3 separate regions of the Homo sapiens genome follow, and regions 2 and 3 are each reported to be linked to region 1. Evidence: microRNA targets listed by miRTarBase, many of them from high-throughput screens and not tested one by one. Region 1 holds a microRNA gene; each other region holds the end of a gene's coding sequence.
What was found. Region 1 holds the annotated microRNA hsa-miR-26a-5p (UUCAAGUAAUCCAGGAUAGGCU, at 1,973-1,994, opposite strand). A microRNA usually pairs through its seed, bases 2 to 8, with sites in the 3' UTR of a target mRNA and lowers its output. Matches are read on the target gene's strand: a 7mer-m8 pairs with bases 2 to 8, a 7mer-A1 pairs with bases 2 to 7 and ends in A, and an 8mer does both.

Region 2: miRTarBase lists MAD2L1 as a target of hsa-miR-26a-5p. Seed matches in the 3' UTR shown: 7mer-A1 at 5,241-5,247 and 8mer at 2,685-2,692.
Region 3: the mRNA of KDM5C is a reported target of hsa-miR-26a-5p. The part of its 3' UTR that is shown has no 7-base or 8-base seed match.

The regions. Positions count from the first base shown.
Region 1 is chr3:37,964,209-37,971,406 of GRCh38, reverse strand. It overlaps MIR26A1 (microRNA 26a-1), which reads right to left and starts at 2,003; the gene lies at 1,927-2,003. It overlaps CTDSPL (CTD small phosphatase like), which reads right to left. Exons shown (of 8, transcript NM_001008392.2): 4 at 6,735-6,836; 5 at 3,525-3,581. RefSeq lists enhancers at 1,208-1,769, 1,770-2,333.
Region 2 is chr4:120,054,324-120,061,521 of GRCh38, forward strand. MAD2L1 (mitotic arrest deficient 2 like 1) reads right to left here. Exons shown (of 5, transcript NM_002358.4): 4 at 6,551-6,654; 5 at 1,300-5,967. The coding sequence ends at 5,795. Among named protein-coding and RNA genes, the nearest start is that of MAD2L1, 8.9 kb to the right of the region's middle.
Region 3 is chrX:53,186,246-53,193,441 of GRCh38, reverse strand. It overlaps KDM5C (lysine demethylase 5C), which reads left to right. Exons shown (of 26, transcript NM_004187.5): 25 at 1-5; 26 at 110-1,284. The coding sequence ends at 475. Among named protein-coding and RNA genes, the nearest start is that of MIR6895, 5.6 kb to the left of the region's middle. RefSeq lists enhancers at 3,564-3,613, 3,984-4,263 and a silencer at 4,444-4,523.

The DNA of each region.
Region 1 (7,198 bases):
CTGCAATGGCAGGAGACAGCAGGCTGGTCAGATGTGGCAGTTGCTGGGGATGGCCTGGGGCCCAAATGCCCACTGTAGGAAGAATTGCTACAAAGGTTCCTGCCTCCCTCCCCCAGGTCTATGCATAGCAGGCAGAGGCCTAGACTGTATGAGGGGCTATGGAGTCAGACGTGGCACTCCTCAGACAGGGCTCCAGGTCTGAGTTCACTGCAGACGCCCCTCCTAAGGGAAAAAGAGAAGCTGACCATGGTGTGAGGGTCTTGGGGATATTCAGGGCCAGCAAATGGAAGGGTTGTACCATGTTTGTGTGTAATGACTCATTCATTTCACGTGTGTTTCTTGGCACCTGCTGAGGGTCAGGACCTGTGTGGGCACGGGCCACGGTCTGGGTGTTGTCCTTTCAGAGGTCCAGGCCCAGCATATTGCCCAGCAGGTCTGGGATTGCTCCGGCTGCCACCTTCTGTTCTGGATGGACATCCCCCTTACTAGGAAGGTCTGGGGTTGAAGCACAGGCCCAGCAAAGCTGCAAGAAGGGGCTTCCTTGTCAGCTTGGGAAGCTGTCTATGACACCATAAAGGGTGGGCTTGGTATGTTTCAGGGGATGTGAAACCATCGCTATTCCTGGACCCCAGACATAATCCATCAGGAGGGGTCTCTGAGCAGAGGGGTGCAAAGAGTAGCCTTTTCTAGAATGGCTGGGCTCTGTGCACCCTTTTGACCAGGCCAGGCCAGGGGGTAGCAGTGAGGAGGCCAGGCTTCAGACCATACATAGGTTCTTGATTAGGGAGCCTGAATGAATCTGGGGAAACAAGGGAGATGGGAGAGAAGGCAAAGCTGGTGAGAGAAGACAGAGGAAGTGGGAGGAGGGAAGAACTAATTCAAACTTGAATAAATTCCGTTTGAAATTAGCCACTTCACTAAAATAAATCAAACTCTTTAAAATTCAATTCAGCATGTTTACTGAGCCTCAGCTCTGAGCTCAGCCTGATGTAGTTGCAAAGATGAATAAAACACAGGCCTTGCCCTTGAAGAGCTCATACTCTAGAACAGACATAGGCAAAAACATATAAAAATAAACATGGCATAATGAAAGTTGTAGTAGAGGGATAAATTAAGGACAATTAACTCCCCTCACAAGGGGAGGGGATCATAGAAGATAACATTTGGCCTGGACCTTGAAGGAGTTCACCAGGCCAATAAGGTTGAGAAGAAGTGGGCTTTCAGGCAGAGGAAACAGTAGAGGGTGAGACCCGAGGCCTGAGAATACTTGAGAAGCTAGAGAGTAGCCAGGCTGTGTGCCCAGCCATCAGAGGTAGTGAGAGAAGCCGGAGCAGCAGGGTCTGGGAGAGGAAGTGGCTGAAGATGAAGTGAGAGGCAGGTCACAGTGGGCACATTAGGGCCTTGAATGGCAGATGGAGCAGGTGAGAATGGCAGGAGGAGCAGCAGAGGGGAGATGAGGGCTCTGCACCACATGCTGGGTGTGCTGCTGGCCGAGGAATTCTATACAGAACCAAGTCATTTTCAAGGTGCCAGAAGCAGGAGCTCAGGAGGGCCAGGACTCAGTGGGAAATTCATGGGTGACTGAAAGAAGGAGGTGGACATGGATTTGTGGCTGAGGGTGGAGCGAGGGGCTGGAGGAACAGGATGTCGTAGCACGGGTGCCAACACAGCTCTGAGGAGCTGGGAGGCTGGGGTAGGGCTGAGGGCAGGGCCTGTGGCTGCAACAGCTGCAGACTCCCACTTTGCCCACAAGACTCCTCGTTGCCAGCAAACGGGTGTGGCCTGTAGTCCTCAGTCACCCTGGGAGTCCTGCTTGGAAAGCAAGCTTTGCTACATGCAAAGGGCAGGAGACTGATTTGTGAACTCTGGTGTTGGTGCCTCTGGCAGAGAGGGGGGTCCTGAGCCCGGATGCCGGCGTCCAGGCCCGCGTCCCCGTGCAAGTAACCAAGAATAGGCCCATTGGGACCTGCACAGCCTATCCTGGATTACTTGAACGAGGCCACGGCCTTCGCCAGGGCCTTGGTCCTCCTGCTCTTGGCTCCTGTGGCTTCATTCCCTCGGGAGAGAATTTCTGACCCCAGCCCTGGGACCTTGTGATATCACAGCACAGCCAGGATGGAGGGTGGGGGAGCTCCTGCAAGAATGGGTCAGCAGTGGGCAGGCCAGTCATGCTTACAGTCACGTGGTACAAAGGATTAATTTCTCTCCTAATTCTTGCTATGCCATTGGGCAGCCTCTCCTTTGTCTCATCATGAGCACTATGTAACACAAGCCAAGATGATAAATGCAGAAGCCTTAACTGCTTCTCAGATGCTGAGTTAATTCAGTTGATGCTTTTGCAAATGTTAAATGCCCAAGTGCCTGCCGTTTTGGCTCTGTGATGGCTTTTAAAAGCATGAAGTGTGGAAACACTAGGAAAAAAGCTGCCTCTCCCCGGGACTGTTTCCTGGCAGGATGTCCTGGAGAATAAGCAAGAAAGCAAGGACATGGGAGGGAAGGGACTTGCGTATCAGGAAAAGAGCCCTGGGCCAGGAGGCAGGAGACTGGAATTTTCATTTTAATTCTTCCCATCGTATGACCTTTAACCAACCCCTTCCCTGGCGGAGCCTCAGTTTCTCCATCTAGACAATGAGGCAGCTGGACCAGCTGATTCCCAAGCTTTCTCCAGTTCTGACACCTTGCACTCAAGAACCAAAGACTACTGACATTGCTAAGAAAAGACATCCCGTTGTGGCTCAAGTACCAGGAAAGTCTCCTTCCTGGGATATCAGGCCAGATACGCTCCCTTTAAGACCTTGGACTTGACAAGGAAGATGGTTAGATCATCCCTGTGGAAAATCTGACAAAAGCCCCCCAGCTTCAACCTCTAAAGCTAGTTTTCCTACAACATTCCCAATTTGTTCATAAATGAAGTTATTTCCGGAAGAGCTTTATGCAGATAAGGAAAAAAAATCAGAAGCAACGAAGACGCATGCCAACTGACTACGGCATCTTTATTCATAGCAGCCTGCGGATCCGAAAACTCACACCCTTCCCCCTTTTTCTTTTGGGGTGGGTATTTGCTAAAGATTCTCTGGAGAAAACGATGCAGGAATGATAAGATCAGTCTGGAGCAGCTGGCATTGAAAATGGACACTTTTTCCCGAGAGTCCACCATAAGTGGGTGACTTGTGGCATTTTCCTGTTGCCTGCTAGGAGAGTAGCCGAAAGCAATTACACAAGGAAGTTAATTAGACCATCAAGCTAGGCCAGTGGGGGATACGGAAACTTCTGAAATTCAAATCAAAGAACTATTTGAACTTGCAACCGCATCTAATATTTACGACTATAGTTTCCTTATAATCTCAGTATAAAATAAATTCATTGGAGTGAAAAAAAGAAAAACATTGTATTTATTACAGTATGCTTCCTTTTGATTCCGTAATAAAGTTATTACTGAAATGAGAATTTAGAAATAAAGTTCATAGGAAATGTAAGTACTAAAAAATCTTAATTGAAACTCAAATTTAGCTTCAGTTTCTTACCTGATGTATAGTTCCATCGATTTCAACCGGAACAATAAAATCAGCATTACTAATAGGCTAGAGAAAAAAGAGACTATAATTAATATGTCTGAAGGAACAAAAAAACTCTGGAAATTTTAGCAAGAAAAAAGCCTGCCTAGACCAATGTTTTGGTTATTGGAAAAAACAGTTCAGGAGGAGGATGATGAAGCATGCCTTGGTTCCTTAAAATAAGCACAAGCAGGAAAGCACATTATTTTCCACTGTGAATGTCATTACATTTTCAGCATCTTGGTCCAATATCACCTGCCTGGCCTCAACCAAAAAGTGTGGCACTGCCTGGCTAGAGGATGGGGCTCCTGAAAACTCCAGCTCTTGCCCAGAGTCTTGCTGGGGTGATGGGGAATCACTGCTAGCCACCAGGGGGAGGAGCTGAGCATGTAATGGGCTCCGAGGACAGTGCTGCTTGAGGGAAAACTATTTGTACTTGGACCCACAACTGGCGGCTGCCCTGCGATGGGCTGCTCAGCAGGAGAAGATGGCCACACGGACTCAAAACAGTAACAAGGCCATGTGGGGGTAAAGTCAGAGGCCGCAGGCCACACCCTTGGGCAGGCTCTTCCTCTCCTTGGACCTCAGTTTCTCCTCTCTTCCTTAGCTATTGTGATGGGTCTGATGCATGCCCATGGCCCCAGTCCAGTACTGAGAATCAGTGATTTCAGGCCCTCCCAGGTAGCCTGGCACCAGCTCCTGCCTTGGGTGGGGGTACAGAGCCAGCCCACCCTATGCCTGCTCCGCTCCAAGGAACACAACATCCAGCACACCCACAAACTTCTGGATATTTTAAATAACTCTTTGACAATATTAATGACATTTAAAATTCAAATATGATTCTTCAGCAGTCATTACGTTCTCAATGATGAACTTACACACAGTTCTCAATGGAATTCCACAAATTAGGTACAAAACTACTTAAATGAACAGGCCCAACTGAATCATCAGCCTGCAAACCCCTGGACAAGAGAAGAGAGACAGAAGGAAGGAGAAGGTGTGTGTGGTGGCCTCTGGGCAGGGGTAGGGGTACAGCATCTGGTCAGACTCTGAACCGAAGTCTGCTTTTAAGCCCATCACAGTACACACAAACCCTCTTTGTTGATATATAAACTAAAAAACAAAAAACAAAAAACAAAACAAAAAAACATGGACAATGCTAGGTCATAGCACCGTTACTAAGCACTTAGCTTATGATCACTGTTTATTTACTCCCAGAGTTGGAAGGCCAAGGATGAGTTTAATATCATATAATTGCACAACTAAAATCAGAATCATGCTAAAAAACAAAAGGAAAGACTGAAGGAAGAGACTCTCCCAAGGCATTAGATTATGGAATCACATTCCACGGAGTATATTAAAAAGAGAAAAACCATTCCCCAGCTTACAGCAAGCACCACCCTTACTCTCCTCTCTCCTGCTGGTATAAAGGAGACTCTGCTACAGCTAGGGTTCTTCACTTGGGATCCATGAACCTATGCATTGTACAAATGTACATTTTCGAAGGGAAGAGGGTTCACAGCTTTCAGATTCTCAAAGGACTTTGAAATGCCCAGAACTTTAAAAACCATAAAGAATATTCTGGTTGCAAATGTAGGCAGGCCAGGGGAGGGAAGAAATGAGGAAACACCATTCACATTAGCTTGTGGCATCAATGCTCTCCGAGCAGGTGCTAGAGACACTGGGGGCTACCAGGGCCTTGCCTTTGGAGCCAGGAATCCTCAGTAACATCAGGTGATCTGGCCAGTGTTGCCTACACTCCCACAGTTGCTTGGGAGGGAGTTCTCTATGCTGTGATGGCAACCGACCCCTGCTCTGAAGGGCTTTCCTTCACAGAGACTTGGAAAAGTCCTGAGCAACTTGCCCATGGGGGAGAAATGGCTTCCAATGCTATCTAGGGTTAAGCTGGGACACAAAGTCACCATATCCCCTGGACCAACTATGGAAGGGGCTGGTCCTCAAGTGCTAGGGAATGAGGTGGTCCCTGCATGCCCCAGTAGCCAGAACAAGGCAATTTCTCACTGCTAGAGGTCAGTGTGGTCTCTTCTCCACTCTTCAAAGGACTCAAAGACAATTTTCTGGCTTTGTCCTACCAGAAAGGTCTCTGTTTAGTGAGAAGAACAAAGAAGGATGTTTCTGGTAGAAAGGTGTTTGGGCACATTTGACAGCTCTTCTGCTTCCTACAACTTGTAAGGAATGACTATGGTTCATGTGAGACACATGCCCCATCATGGATGGTGACCTTCATGTCTCTCAGTGAAGGGGAGTCCCAGGCTGGTGGGGGAAAGAGGAATGCAGTACAATGATAGAGCAGTCCCATTACCAGAAATAATCCAAGGAAAACAAGACCAGAATCCTAAATACCTGCTTCTTCTCCCCAAAACACCAATCTCCTATTTCCAAACTTTTCATCATTTGCCTCTTTTATACAATTTATTTCACGTCAAAAAAAAATGGTTAACTAACTCATTTCTTAACAGTGTCGCCACAGCTCTTCCTGCATGGAGGCCGTTTCTGCTGTTTTTCCAGCAGGAAGATGGAGATCAGGGAAGGTGACAGGAAGGAAGAGTGTCTGACCTCCACACCCTTCAGGAGGGAAGTCCTGAAGGTGGGTACTCATTTAGCTGTGAAGCTTGCAAAAAACCCCAGCCACTTCTTGTCATGAAGATGCTCAAATTAAATGGCTGAATCTGTTCAGATGCCCTGAAGTCTGGAAGTCTTCTTCAGAGTTGGACATCTTTCAAAAATCAATCTGGGAAAATCTCCATGATACCAGGTCATTTGACAGTTTCCAACAGAGACTCCCCTCCCCCTCCCAATAAAACACATAGCACTCTGGTCATCTTGACAAATATAAACAGTATCCTGGGGGCACTGAGTGCCTTGTGCCACCTGAAAAGTATTTCTGCAGCGGTTACAGCATTGGAAAATGCAAACCTCCTAAGAATGAGGTCCCAGTGATGTTGGTAGCTTAGTGTTTTCTTTCCAAACTAATTATGTTAATATTCAACTACTTTAGTTAATGTTCACCTGGGTTAATAAGCAGCTCCTGGGATTTCTACATGAAGAGTGAAGTCACACACTAACCACCATAAGCTTTCATCCTTTTTGTTTTCCCTTTTCCAATACAATTGTTATCAAATCACAAAGATCATGGATTTTTTTTTTATGTTGATTTACCTTAAACGAACTGTGCACCAATGTTTCATCTAAATCAATGACCACACATTTCTTTCCATAGTCAAGCACCGTCACCTCTGGAAGAAGGTACTTAGCTGGTGGCTAAAGGGGAAAAATAAATCAGTATTACATTTATGTAAAAGACAAACCAATCAGTATTGCATTATACTACTTTCAAACATTTAAATGCCTGGTCAAGCGTATAATGGGCTTTTATTAAGAACAATAGGAATAAGTAGTTTGCAACTAAAGTTTTATCAAATACGGTGCCACGATCTGAATGACTGCTATGAAGTCCTAGGCTTTGGAACCAGACAAACCTGGTTTCAATCATCAGCTCTGTCACTTTCTTGGTTGTAAATTGGGATAGTAATACCTACCATGAAAGGTTGTTGTTATCAGTTATAATGGCAATAAAATGCCCAGCATTTTGCCTCACACATATATTGGTGGCTACAGTTATT
Region 2 (7,198 bases), not on the chromosome of region 1:
ATCAATTCTCACAGGGTTGTTGCAAGGATTGAGATAATGCATGTAATGAATGAATTTGAAGACTGATCCCTTCCCTGCCCACAAACTGAGCTAAAGATGTTCTATAAAGGATTCAGACTCCCCAGTGTTTCTTCATGGTTTTGCTTTATGGGTCTCCTCTGGGGCGATGGAGGCATCAGCGGAGTTGTAGAATTTCCATTTTGGATGCAGTCCTTCTCTCCCCACCCTCTTCTCCCTCACAGCCCTAAATTGAGGTTTGGGGGCTGTTCCTTGCTCCAGAGGACTCCTCATTTGGAACTCAGACTTAATTTCCTTTATCTCATGGCTCTCCCCATGTCCCATCATCAGTTTCTAAGACCACAGCTTGTGGCCCAAGTCTTCCATTTCCCCACTAACCCCAACCTCCATTCATTTAGGAGTCAGCTGAACAGATGTAAAGCACTTCAGTGGTGCCTGGCATACAGTAGATGATCAATACCCATGAATTTCCTTTCCTAGACTTGGAGGCTGTAAGCTTTACAGCCTGTTTTTAAAGAGCTGTACTGACTCTTATGAGTGTGAACACAGTGATCCAATAACTGCATGTTAGATATGAAATATTTTGCACATCACAGACCCAATCTTTAAAACCACTAGCATCTGTACTTGGTCAGTGAGACTGCCATTTCAGAAAGAAATTCATATCCATGTCTAGGCATCCACTAGATATGTCCATATCTAGAAAGTTTTTTAAAGTGTTTGGACTCTTTCCCTTGCAAGGAAATGGACTATGGGTGGTCCAGCTTATATTTGGGATGCCTTTTTCCACACAGATAAAATTCCAAGAAAATAAGATTTTGATCTCATGTAAGTTCCTTTGTGCAAACAAGCTTGCATAGCAAAATGGTGCAGATAAATGTAGATGAAATGGGCTTTGTACAAGTAAATGTAACTATATTATGTTTCTCTGGTATAAAAATAGATCACATGGTGGAGGACAAAAATAGGTGACATGGTAACATAAACCAACTTGTGTAATCAGAGGGTCAACTCTGACATTTTTCACTCTAGGCCTTTTCTAATAGTCTTGTTGCTAGGGCTACAATGTTTTTGCCAGATTGGAACAGAATTGTCAACTCTAATGAAGATTAAGTAGCTTGCCCAACTACGTTTGTTTTTTTTTTTTTTTTTAGCCTCAGTGAATACTGCTGGCTTTAAAAGTCATAATTATGAAGAATGGAAATATCTCTAAAAGATCTATTTTTAAAAATATATAACTAATAAAATTTAAAATTGAGTAGACAGTTTCCATTTCACAGCTATTCCAATATAAACTTTTATCAGTCACATTGAACAAAATAACTAGAAATATTTCATACATTTAAAAAAAGAATAAGAAATTATTTACAAGTTAAGCCGCAAACAATTCACCAAAAACTGAGTAATTAAGGTTACTTAACAAACAATTCTTCTGATTAGTTGGAAAATTGTTTCATTACTGTTCACAAATTCATACCTGATTTACTCTGTAGACAATATAGATTAGGCATAGGATAAAATCCTCTGTATTTGGTTCCTCCCAATCATTGGTCAAAGTCATCTGACAACAGACTATCTGAGGAAAGTGTAAATACAAAGTCACCCAATAAAACATGAATAAGTTTTGCAAAGCACAGTAAAGGAAAACCAGTTTGTTCTGAACACTTTATTGCTAAAAGGATGTAAAGGGTAAGAGGAAAAAGGTGACGAAACACTCCTTTTGATATGCTTGTTGGGGAGTCAGGATGAACTTCCTTGGCTAGGGATAGAAGGAAGAGATCACCTAAACTTCAAAAACCACAATACAATTTGCATACTTCCTTGGCCAGGGATAGGAGAGACCACTAAACTTCAAAAACCACGACACAATTTGCATGCCCATTGACCCCCAGTTTTACTTGTGCACAAAAGCATGAGAATTAAATAAAAATTCATGTGAAGTGACTAGTAAATAATAAATGCTAAGTGTTTATTCCCCTAATGTATTTATATATTTGTTGCCAGGAATTCCAATGCTGAGTAACCTTGCTTTTCCAATAAGCTTACAGCCTTTAGAACCAAAAGAAAGTCATCTTAATTTGAATATTACAGCATTAGTGACATCTGGTGGAAAATATAAGAGTTACAAAGTAGCATTACATAGCTATTCTGATCTTTCATGTAAATTTTAGATAAATTTTACATACTAAATGAAAACAAGATGAAGAAATGGTCTATGAAGTTATCTACCTTATTGTGCTAATAATCTTTGAATCTATATGCTAAAATATATAGGAAGTCAGTATAATTAGCATTATACTAATAAAAACATTTTTCAGCATGCATGTCTATATAGTGAAAAAATGATTAAAAATAGGCATGGGCTCTTTATCCTATTGTGAGTCTCATAAAAAGGGTCTCTTTTTTAAAGGAGAGCCCATACCTCTCTTTTTATGGCATCACATGCCAAAGAACCTCCCTTAACAAGTTTTCAGATCAAATTGTGAACTGTGGGGTGTGTTAGGAAGTATGTCAAGAAAATAGCTGGTTGTGCTTCAGAGAATATGGAATTTAGGTATATTTGGGAGAGACATTCTGTTTGAGATACTATGGATGGAGGCAACAAACGATGTTTTACAAGTGAGCTTTAAATATTACGGTATCAAATGCTCTGAACTAGGGAGGGGTTCAAGTATTTGTGACCAAAAGAGCAAACTGTGATCTGTTACAGGACTGGTAAGCTACAACCCTGGGGCCGAAGCAAACAGCCATGTTTTTTTCTTATTGGAACACACTCACGCTCATTCATTTATGTATTGTCTATAGCTGCTTTCAGCCTCGAGTAGGTGCAAGAGACCATATGCCTTCAAAAGCAGAACTATTTACTACCTGGCCATTTACAGAAAGTTTGCCAACCTCTAGTCCATTAGATAACTGTCATCAAACTTCTCGGTGCCATTCCCACCACCTCCATGGGAGGAGTATACTTCCTGGTCCCATTAAAGTTAGGCTTGACCTTCACTTGCTTTGGTCAGTGTGAAAAAGCTGGCCTTCAGAGTCCTGACTAACCAATGTCCCTCCAACAGAATGAGAAAGGTGCAGCAAAAGCCAACCAATACATGAGACTGTTATACCTCTGCACAAGCATTCTCACAGAGGTTTGACTTCTCTGATTGATGACACTGGGAAAAGGATCCTGAAAGCCAGATACAGTTCAGTTCCTCCTGGGCTCTACTTCAGACCTTGATGGGCTTAACCTCTGTTCATCCTCTACATATGGTAAGCAACACTGAGCCAGAGTCCAGGCCAGGCCTAGAGGCCTATCATGCTGTCTTAGAACCTTCTCTTTAACATGGTGTAGAAACCACTCACAAGTCTTTCAGCTGTTGATTTAAACATCATCCTCCTGAGGTAAGCCTCAAGGTCTAGAAAGAGGATGGGACAGTCCACTTGGAGCTACAGGGCAAAGCTTTTCCAGTATAGCTTCACCTCAATAAAACTCATAGTTTGGCTCCCACTCAGCTCCAAAATGTGTATTTCTTTTTTATTTATTATTTTTTGAGATGGAGCCTTGCTCTGTCGCCCAGGCTAGAGTACAGTGGCACGGTCTTGGCTCACCGCAACCTCCACCTCATGGGTTCAAGCGATTTCTCCTGCCTCAGCCTCCCAAGTAGCTGAGATGCGCCCGCCACCACGCCCAGCTAATTTTTATATTTTTAGTAGAGACGGGGTTTGACCATCTTGGCCAGGCTGGTCTCAAACTCCTGATCTCGTGATCCACCTGCCTCGGCCTCCCAAAGTGCTGGGATTACAGGCGCGAGCCACTGCGCCCAGCCCAAAATGTGTATTTCTTAATTGATTATATAATCTGTAAGGGGTAAAATGACTCATCATGACTAGCTCTCCAGAAACCTCAGAGTAAATAGTAGCATGCAAATGATACAAAAATCTAAGAATTTAATCCTGTTAATATTGGTAGCTGAGTTGAAATGACCAGAGTATACACACAACCTTTAAAAATGTGATTTCAGCCGGGCGCAGTGGCTCACGCCTGTAATCCCAATGCTTTGTGAGGTCAAGGCGGGCAGATCATGAGGTCAGGAGTTCAAGACTAGCCTGGCCAACATGGTGAAACCCTCTCTCTACTAAAAATATAAAAATTAGCCAGGTGTGGTGGCACGTGCCTGTAATCCCAGCTACTCAGGAGGCTGAGACGGAAGAATGGCTGGAATCCGGGAGGCAGAGGCTGTAGTGAGCTGAGCTGCGTCACTGTACTCCAGCCTGGGCGACAGAATAAGACTCCATCTTGGGGGGGAAAAGTGATTTCGCAGAATTTAGTCTGACTTCTCAAATAGTTAAAATACAAATGAAGCATTTAATTGCCACTTTTCTTGAAATCATCTAGGTTGGTAACACCAGTGGTCCACTTATTCCATAAAGATATGAAGAGTCTACAAATTTGTCACTGAGAACCCAGAAACTGCCACTGATCCACAGTATTTGCTCAATATGTAATTTCTGAATGAACAGATTCAGACTATGTGCAATTACTTAAAAATAGTGAAGGTTAAATAAGTTAATACACATAAAGAACTTAGTGTCTAATAATAAACATTAATAAACTGAATTTTTACAAAATGAGGTCAGATTTAGATTAGAGATTAGAGAAGACTTTACAAATCTGCCTTAAACTGACCTTGGAAAAACAGGTGAGAACTGGATAGAAAGCATGTACCAGATGAGGGTATTAATGAAAGCACAGGAATAAGCATAGTATTTAAGTATATAAGGAAAAGTAGGCTGACAATAAGGCTAAGAGTATAGTAAAGTACTAAAATCAACACTTGTTCAACTGGAATTGTTGGACTAATTCCAAAGGACATTTATCTTTTCACAATGATGAAGTAATAGCCTTAAGTCTATTGCTATGAGATGAACAGGATGTGATCAAAGTTTATCCATTAGATTGAAGACACCTCAAGACTCACTCAACTTTGGACCCTTAAGTTCTATAACTTCGTAGGAACAAGAATTCATTAGCTATGCTGAATCAATTCTAATTACCATTTAACTATATCAACACCAAACCAGTATCAAAATGTTTTAAGACAAATTTAAAACAAACTTAACTTTATTTCCTCACTTTCACTTAAAACTTGATTTTATAAAACACATGAAAAAACATTTTTAAGAGTTCTGTATCACAGAACATTAAACAGTACAAATATCCATTGCTTCATAGGTTCAAGTTACATAAATTAAAGTCAAATAATTGGAAACTGATTCAATAGGGAAAACTATACATGAAATGAAGGTCAAAAGGAGCTATACAGCAATATTTCATTGTTTATAGATTATGAGTTACTTTCAGGACCTTAACAAAGATTCTGAATATTTAGACTTCCTTTGTTGTATTTTATACTTAAATATCTCCCTACCTATACTGAGTCAAACTACTTGACCAAAACATCTGATTTAGGAAAGCATCTAGCTTTATAGCACAAGTTTTTCCATCTACAGTTACTATCTTCAAAGGAATATACATCACAATGTTGACAAAAAAACCTCCTGGTTCCTTTTGAACAATGTGCAATAAATTCATGATGTTAACTCCATGGTAAGTCAAATAGGTACCAAAAAAATAAAAGGAACAATTACACACAGTTCAGTAAGTATCATTTTGGTTTTCTCCATGTAAAAATTAACCAATGAAATAAAACATATCAACTATAGATGACTTGATTTCAGGAAAACCACATTTCAAAATTACAATTACATTATTTTCCTCATGTCATCCTCAGTCATTGACAGGAATTTTGTAGGCCACCATGCTATTTACTTTGTGGATTGTAGTAGTAAATGAACGAAGGCGGACTTCCTCAGAATTGGTAATAAACTGTGGTCCCGACTCTTCCCATTTTTCAGGTACAACCAAATCTTTGTCTGTATAAATCAGCAGATCAAATGAACCTAAATTGGGGATAAGATCATTGAAGTATATTATTTTCTAAAAGTAAAACTAATCTTGCTGCCTCTCTTCTATTTTGAACCACTCACTGCTGGAAAAGGTCATTTGGCTTGGTCTCCAATCACTAGTTAATTTATTTTGCTCAATGAACATTTATTTCAGTAAAGAAAATATTGTATCTAACTTCCGTGCAATTTAGTGATTGTGTTCAAGTAACCCTTATCTTATTTAATAATGGTCCCAAAGCACAAGAATAGTGATGCCAGCATATTGTTATAATTGTTCCAGTTTATTATTAACTCTTACTATGCTTAATTTACATATTAAATTTTATCATAGGTATGTATGCATAAGAAAAAAACATTATATAGGGTTCATACTATCCATGGTTTCAGGTATTCACTGTGGGTCTCCCTGTGGAAAGGGAGACTACGATACATTACTTTTGCATGATAATGTTTTTCCTTCAATTTATATTACATAAATCTGATAAATAAGACAAAATTTAATAAAGGGGTGATTACGGCAGTAGCTTAGTCTTTTTGCCAATCAATTTAATTCAACAAGAAGTTGTATAATACTTACAAGAAACTTCCAACAGTGGCAGAAATGTCACCGTAGCTGTGATCTGTCTGATCACTGAACGGATTTCATCCTGGATAGCTTTCTGAGACTTTTCTCTGGGTGCACTGTCAAAAAAAAATCAAATCAATTAATTCATTTCAGGTCTTAACAAATTATTTCAAACATAGTGGTTAGATTATTTATCTGATTAAATGCTCTCAACATCAAATAAGCAGGGCTTATTTGAGAAAGGAGGTTTGTAAAAAATGTGAGTGAAAGTATCCTTCAGACCTACAACCTAGTAGGCACAACATTCATCCTTATTACTTCATTTATCCTGCCAGTCATCTTTTAGAGCTGGTCTTAGTGTCAGGTCATTTAGTATCAGATGACTAGAAAATTTGCCAATCACTTCAAGTTCAGGAAACTTCAGCATCTCTTGAAATAAAAATAAGTGATATCTAAAATATGTATTGGTATAATCATTTCAGCATTTTTAGTAATGCCTAAATGTCTAATTTCCTATTTTCTCAAATAAAACATTAAATTGTATATCAAATTATTTTATAAGCTAAAAATTTCCTAAAATACACCAAAGCCTTCAGAAGCAAACTACATTTCACTATAAGAAATGGTTCTCAGTTTATAGAAGAGCATGCCTAGGACAAT
Region 3 (7,196 bases), not on the chromosome of region 1:
TGGAGGTGAGGAGAGGGGTCATGGGCCGGGCCAGGAGGTCAGGCCGAGTAGGGAGCCCAGGCCTGACCACTGGCCCACAACCTGTCTTTCTGCCTGTCTGTAATCACAGCTGGAGAAGGCAGAGCGTCACGGGAGTCGGGCTCGGGGCCGGGCCCTGGAGAGGCGGCGGCGGCGGAAGGTGGATCGGGGTGGGGAGGGCGATGACCCAGCCCGAGAGGAGCTAGAGCCAAAGAGGGTACGGAGCTCAGGGCCAGAGGCTGAGGAGGTCCAGGAGGAGGAAGAGCTGGAGGAGGAGACTGGGGGTGAGGGCCCCCCTGCACCCATCCCCACCACTGGCAGCCCCAGCACCCAGGAGAACCAGAATGGCTTGGAACCGGCGGAAGGGACCACTTCAGGCCCCTCGGCCCCTTTCTCCACTCTGACTCCCCGGCTGCATCTGCCCTGCCCACAGCAGCCGCCTCAGCAACAGTTGTGACAGTGGCTGAGCCTAGCACAGACCCTGACAGAGACCCCCCTCGGCCTCAAGGATCCTCTTTCTGACCATCAAGCCTGCTTCTTGGGGGGTGGGCGGGTAGGGGGGTGGCCATCCCTGCTACCCGCCCACCCCTGAGTCCCTTGACTTTTGTATTCTGACTCCAAGGTATTGTTCAGACCTCAGCTCCTGGGGGCCGGCCCCTGGAGTCTTCCCTCCCTGGTAGCCTCTAACCAGCATTCCCAGACACCTGAGGCAGATAGATGGATGGGCTGGTGGGCAGGGGGGTGGCTGGGGCTGGGCCATCACCATTCCAGAGACAAGGCCAGTGTATATGCAAACTGGGGGACTCTCCTCCCTTCTCTCCCCAGTTCTGGTCCTGGCCAGGCCATGCTACACTAACCCCTGCCCCCACTCTCCTCCCCTCTTTTCCTTCCTTCCTACCCCCTTCTCCCTCTCCCTTCCCCTGACTGTTCCACCCAGGAGGAGGAAACTTCACATAGCCGTGCTCACAGTTTTTTATTTTAAAGGAATTTGGCTGGGGAGCTGAACAGGGCTCCCTGTGATCTGAAGAAAGCTTTTGGTGCTTGTCCTCACAACCACCTCAGTCCTCCCTCCCTGTCCTCCCCTGTCTCCTTTCCTCCTCCTGGGTTCATGTTGTAATAAAAGAAGATTGTTGGTGTGTAATTAATTTGTTCAAAAGAAAAAAAAAAGCAAAACAAGAAACTTGGTTCCAACTGAAGCCTATTTTAATTTTATTTTATTATTTTCCTCTTGTTAGAAATAAAACCCTTAGAAACATTTTTTGGAAACATGTTTCTGAAGTGCATTTCTCTTAGACGGGGAAGACAGTGCTTCCATCACCAGTCAGTGGAGCAGCTGTAGTGCTGGCAGGAGCACTAGGGCTGAAGCCAGGGAGCTCTGGGTTCTGAAATCAAGTTCCACCAGCTTCTTAACCTTGGGCAAGACATTCTGATCCTCCCCCGACTCTAACCCCAAGCCACTTTCCCTCAAGTCCAAACAGATGGGCTCGGGCCCCCTCACCCAAACTCCTACACTACAACCTCCCCCAGTTGATGCCCTCCAGTTTATCCTCCTCAAGCTCCCAAAGGGATTTTTTTGTTAATGGCTTTATTGAGATATAATTTACATACTATAAAATTCACTTGTTTGAAATGTACAATTCAGTGATTTGGGGGGTTTCTAAAGTGTAGATCTGATTATATACTGCTTAAAACCTTCCATGATGCTTTATTGCCCTTAAGATTATACATAGAATCTCGTTCTTCCTAGAATGTTTTCCTGTCTAACCCATCTACTGCATAATTCCCTGATTTTTCTCCACAGGTTATGCCCCTGATGAATGGGGACTAAAGCTCAGATGTGTGGTCATTTGCAACCCCTGAGTTCACTTTTTTAAGACAGCTTATTGATATATATAATGTACATACCATACAGTCACCCACTTAAAAGTATACAATTAAATAGCTTTTAGTATATTCAGAGTTGTGCAGCCATCATTCGAAAAAAAATTTCAGAACATTTTCATCACTGCAGAAAGAAACTCCATATCCCTTAGGCGTCCTTTACCCCTCATCCCATTTGCCTATTCTGGACATTTTACATAAATGGAATCGTATAATATGTGATCCTTTGTGTCTAGCTTCTTTCACTTAGCAAAGTGGTTTCAAGCCCATTAATGGTCCCATAGTAGTTGGAAAGATCTCTCTTCTGAGTCCCAAAGTCTTTAAGATGAGGGTGCTGGACTAAATCAGGGACCATCAACAGATTGTTTACATGTTTTTGTGGGTGTTTGCATGCATGTGTTTTTCTGACAAGAAGACTAACCAGCTTGTATCAGATTCATAAAGGGATCCTTGACCCTCCAAAGGCTAAGAACCATTCTTTGTGGTCTTGAGTGTTCTGTGTTTGGAGTCTGCCCATGATACGAGGATACAAAGGAGGAAGCAAGAGTATGGAAGCCCTAAGCCAGTCAGCTTCCTATCATGCCTGCCTCAAGGGCTTTCCGTCCTCTCAAGGGGCTGTGAGGAGGCTAAAGGCTGGGTCCTGATCCCTAGCCCAGGAGCTTAGCACACTGCCACTCTTATTTTGCTTTCTCATCTGAACGTTCATGGGTTTCATTCCCCCTTCCCAATATTTGCAGCTGATAGGAACCTAGTGGTAAATAAGAAAGCCCGCCCTCTTCTGGCAGCTTTGATTGGTGGGAAGGTCTGGCTCAGCCCTGCTTCATCTAGTCTTCCAGTTGGGACCCTAGGCTATACAAGTAAGGAGAGAGAGAGGAGTCCGTGGACAACCCTGCCGGGTCCAGCTTGACCCCAGGTCTCAGTCTAGGGGAAAAGGCTGACCTTTTGGCTGGAATTGATCATGAAAAGGGGGTTGGAGGAGCTGACAGGAGAGATGAGTGTGAGAGCTGGGATGGGCAGGAAGGGGCTCAATCTCAGCACTTAACTACCACTGCCAAGGCAGTCAGCCACAGGAAGTGTCCAGACAGGAGAGGAAGAGATGGTGCCTACAACCTGAAGCAACTCCCAGGTTAGAGAACTGCTTGGCCCAGGACGGAGGCCTCCCTGGTATAGGCCCATCCTTCACCAGTTTTCAGACAGCCTTTACCATGTTGGCACGTCTGTGTCCCATCCCTCACACACTCCTTCACAGCAGACATGCATTCCATGAACTCTGCAGGAGAGGCCCTGGCCATCATCCTGCAAGACCCAGATCAAATCTAACCTCTTCCAGAGAGCTTTCTCTGGTTCCAAATCTGCCCTCTTTCCCAGATACTCCCCTAGAAAGGGAGGGGGACTGGCTCAGGGGACACCCTCCCCCTCAGATAAGGGGCTGGGGAGAATGAGGTCAGGGAAGCAGTGGGTATCTTCTCACCTCAAAGTCATTTTCTATTATAGAGATATCACCTAGCTGCCGAGTCCTCCCAAATGTTGCCACATCCCTCAGGATGGCTCCTGAATCTGCAGGTGACAAGGGGATGGAAAGAGACATCACTTCTATTAAGGACTTTACCCAAACCCTTCAGGCCCAACTGAACCCTTCTTCCCCTTCTCCTTAGTGTCTCCACCTGTGCCTTACCTGGTGTCTGAAACACACTAAGATTAATAGGTCTGTCTCTCCTCCCACCCCCAAGCTCTGGAGCTTCTGGAGGGAAGGCAAGGCCCAGGCCTCAGTCTGTCTCCACTTCCAGGCCAAGGGCCCGCAATCTAGCTTAGAAGGAGGTAGGAGCATCAGTTGGGGCTCCACACTGTGCATATGACTCTGTTTCCTTTGCATTGCAGAGTCCAGTGGTACAGGATACCACCCCTTGGGAGTGGCGCCTGGGGTCTGAGGTACATGGTCAGTGGGTCCTTGAAGGGGCAGACACTAACCATGCTTCCCAGAAGACCTGAAATTGTGATGGGAGAAGAGGGGTTAGGAAGCAGAGGAACAGGGTTCTTGCCCCTGGGCACTCACATGAAAGGAAGGGGAACAGCCCCTTGTGAACCTCCACCTGGGTGCTCAGCTCCATGTGAGGTATTTCACAAAGTCCCCAACAGACACAGGAAACAGACCCCTAGGAAAACAGGCCTCACCTAAGCATATCAGCCTGGCAGAGCTGGGATTTTCACCAAATCTCTGTGACCCTAAGGCCTGTGCTAGACAGAAGGGGTCCAAAGTAATCAGCCTGCAATCCGGAAATAGTTCACAGTGGGAGCTCAGTGTTGATCTCTGCTGTTGGTAGGTTGGGAATTCAGCAGTGCTAGGGCCACAGTGGCCTTGGTAGGTTAGAAGTTCATATTGCCGAGGTACATAACCTCCACGCCTATCTCTATTGGTTATATATTTGCTACATAACAAATTATCTCAAAAACAGTGGCTTAAAACAACATTTTATCTCACAGTCCCTGTGGTTAGGAATCTGGGCACAACTTAGCTGAGTTTCTGTTTCAGGGTCTCACAGCCAGCAAGGTGTGAGCTGGGGCTACAGTCATCTCAAGGCTTGACTGGGGAAAGATCTGCTTTCAAGCTGACTCATGTGGCTGTTGGCATATTCAGTCTTGCTGGCTGTTGGCTGGGGGTCACTCTCAGGTTCCTTGCCATGTGCACCCTTTCATAGGGTGGCTCATAATATGGCAGCTTGCTTCATCACAGCAAACAAGTAAGATGAGCTAGAGATAGAAGGAGAGTGCCCACATGCCAGACAGAACTCATAGTCTTTATAACTTAATTTCAGATGTGAGATCCCATCACTTTTGCAATATTCTATTCGTTAGAAGTAAGTCAGTTACTGCCGGGCACAGTGGCTCACACCTGTAATCCCAGCACTTTGGGAAGCTGAGACGGGCGGATCACCTGAGGTCAGGAGTTCGAGACCAACCTGACCAACATGGAGAAACCCCATCTCTACTAAAAGTACAAAATTAGCTGGGTGTCGTCGCGGGTGCCTGTAATTCCAGCTACTCAGGAGGCTGAGGCAGGAGAATTGCTTGAACCCGGGAGGCAGAGGTTGCGGTGAGCCAAGATCGCGCCATTGCACTCCAGTCTGGGCAACAAGTGCAAACTCCGTCTCAAAAAAAAAAAAAGTAGGTCAGTTACTAGGTCCAGGCCACACTCAATGGGAGGGGATTACACAAAGGTGTGAATACCAGGAGGCGGGGGGTCATTGGGGGTCATCTTGGAGACTGACAACTATAGTTTTTCCACTGGTCCTGGTGATTCATGTTGCTTCCACATGCAATATACATTCACCACTTCCCAAAGTCTCTCAAAGTCTCATCCAATTACAGCATTGCCCCAAAATCCAGAACATCTAAATCAGGTCCATATATGAAAGAGGCTGTTTGAGTATGGCTTCTTAACTACTATTTTTCTCCATCTTTAGATTTGTGAGACAATTGTTTTTTTGTAAAAAATTATTTTTTGGCCGGGTGCAGTGGCTCACGTCTGTAATCCCAGCACTTTGGGAGGCCGAGGCGGGCGAATCATGTGGTCAGGAGATCGAGACCATCCTGGCTAACACGGTGAAACCCCGTCTCTACTAAAAATACAAAAAATTAGCCGGGAGTGGTGGTGGGCGCCTGGAGGCTGAGGCAGGAGAATCGCTTGAACCCGGGAGACGGAGTTTGCAGTGAGCCGAGATCACGCCACCGCACTCCAGCCTGGGCTACAGAGCAAGACTCCGTCTCAAAAAAAAAAAAGAAAATTATTTTTTATTTTTATTTTGTTATAGAGACGAGATCTTACTATATTGCCCAGACTGTTCTCAAACTCCTGGGCTCAATCCTTCCACCTTGGCCTCCCAAAGTGCTGGGATTACAGGCATGAGCCACCGTGCCTGGCTGATTTGTGAGACTTAAGAGGCAAGTTATCTGTCCCCAACACACCCTAGGTACAATGGTGGGATAGCCATAGGACAACTACTACAGACATTCTGGTTCAAAAAGAGGGGAAATGGGAGACATAAAGGAGTTACTGGTCTATAACTAACAACTCTGAAATCCAGCTGGGAAAATGGAAGTTTCTTGATTAGATGTCAAGGCCTGGGAATAATATTCTAAGGCTCTGCCCTCTGATCTCTTGGTTTTACCCTGTGTGCCTTCCTTTTTCATGAAAGGCAGCAAATGTTTGCAGCTGAACTGTTTCCCCAGTTTGCTTCCTGCCAGTAGAATTTTGGGGGTCCAGTGGCTTTTTTTCATTTTGTCTTGTCTGTAATCAGCTGCCACCAAGAAATAGTTCCACAGGGGGGCTTGGGTTACTGTTCTGTTGGCAGGTTGGGCACTCAGCAGTGGCTTATAGCCAGATTGGTCGTGGTGGAAGTCCATATTGTGGAGTCCATGCATAACCTCCATGCCTGCCACCATGGCCATTTTGTTCAGGAATCCATTGGGCAAAGAAAAGGGTGACAGATAAGAGGCTGACTGACATCACAGAACAGGACACCTACCTGTCTACTTGATTGAGCTCCTCTTCTGCAGTGGACTCTCTCTGGTGCTTATTTATGTGGGACGTGAATATCTCTGCCCATTCCAAGAGGGACAGCCATATGCTCTTCCTCAGACCTTGTCAATAATATTTCAGTCCTGTTATTTCCAAGTCCTTCACCATTTAGCCGAATCATTAAAAACTACTCATGAAACAGTGGAAACCTATCTATACCTCTGACCAGCTATGTGACCAGGCAGTTGTTCTACTGGGAGAATTTCCCTTCTCACTGTCCTTCAGGATCAACCCTAAGTAGGGCTGTAACACTACAGCTAGCTACTTCAGCAGGGCCAGCATATCATGCAGGGCTATGTATAAACCAAGCTGGAATAGAATATTGTATCCCTTAGTCACCTGGTCACAGGGAATTCCCCATGAGGCTTCAGGTGTGGGTGAGAGAGGGATGGCAGTACAGCAGTTGGGAGTATGATTCACTTGCTCAGGCAGCTTATTCATCATCTAGGCCTGCTTGTATAACTCTATTCTATTCGGTGGTGGAGTGCTACTGCACATAGATAACTTCGTGGCTTGATGAGACAGTTAACACACAACTCACCATGGGGAGCTCAGCTTGCCTGGGTCACTTGGAGTCCTATGCTCAGCCATTCATTCACAAAATAGACCCACTTTTCCATTTTTATTTTTCTCTGCTCCTGGGACTCCTGTTGTCACGATATTGCCACCTCCAATTTTATCCCCCATTTCTTGAATCTTTAACTTGCTCTTCAGCTGTAGT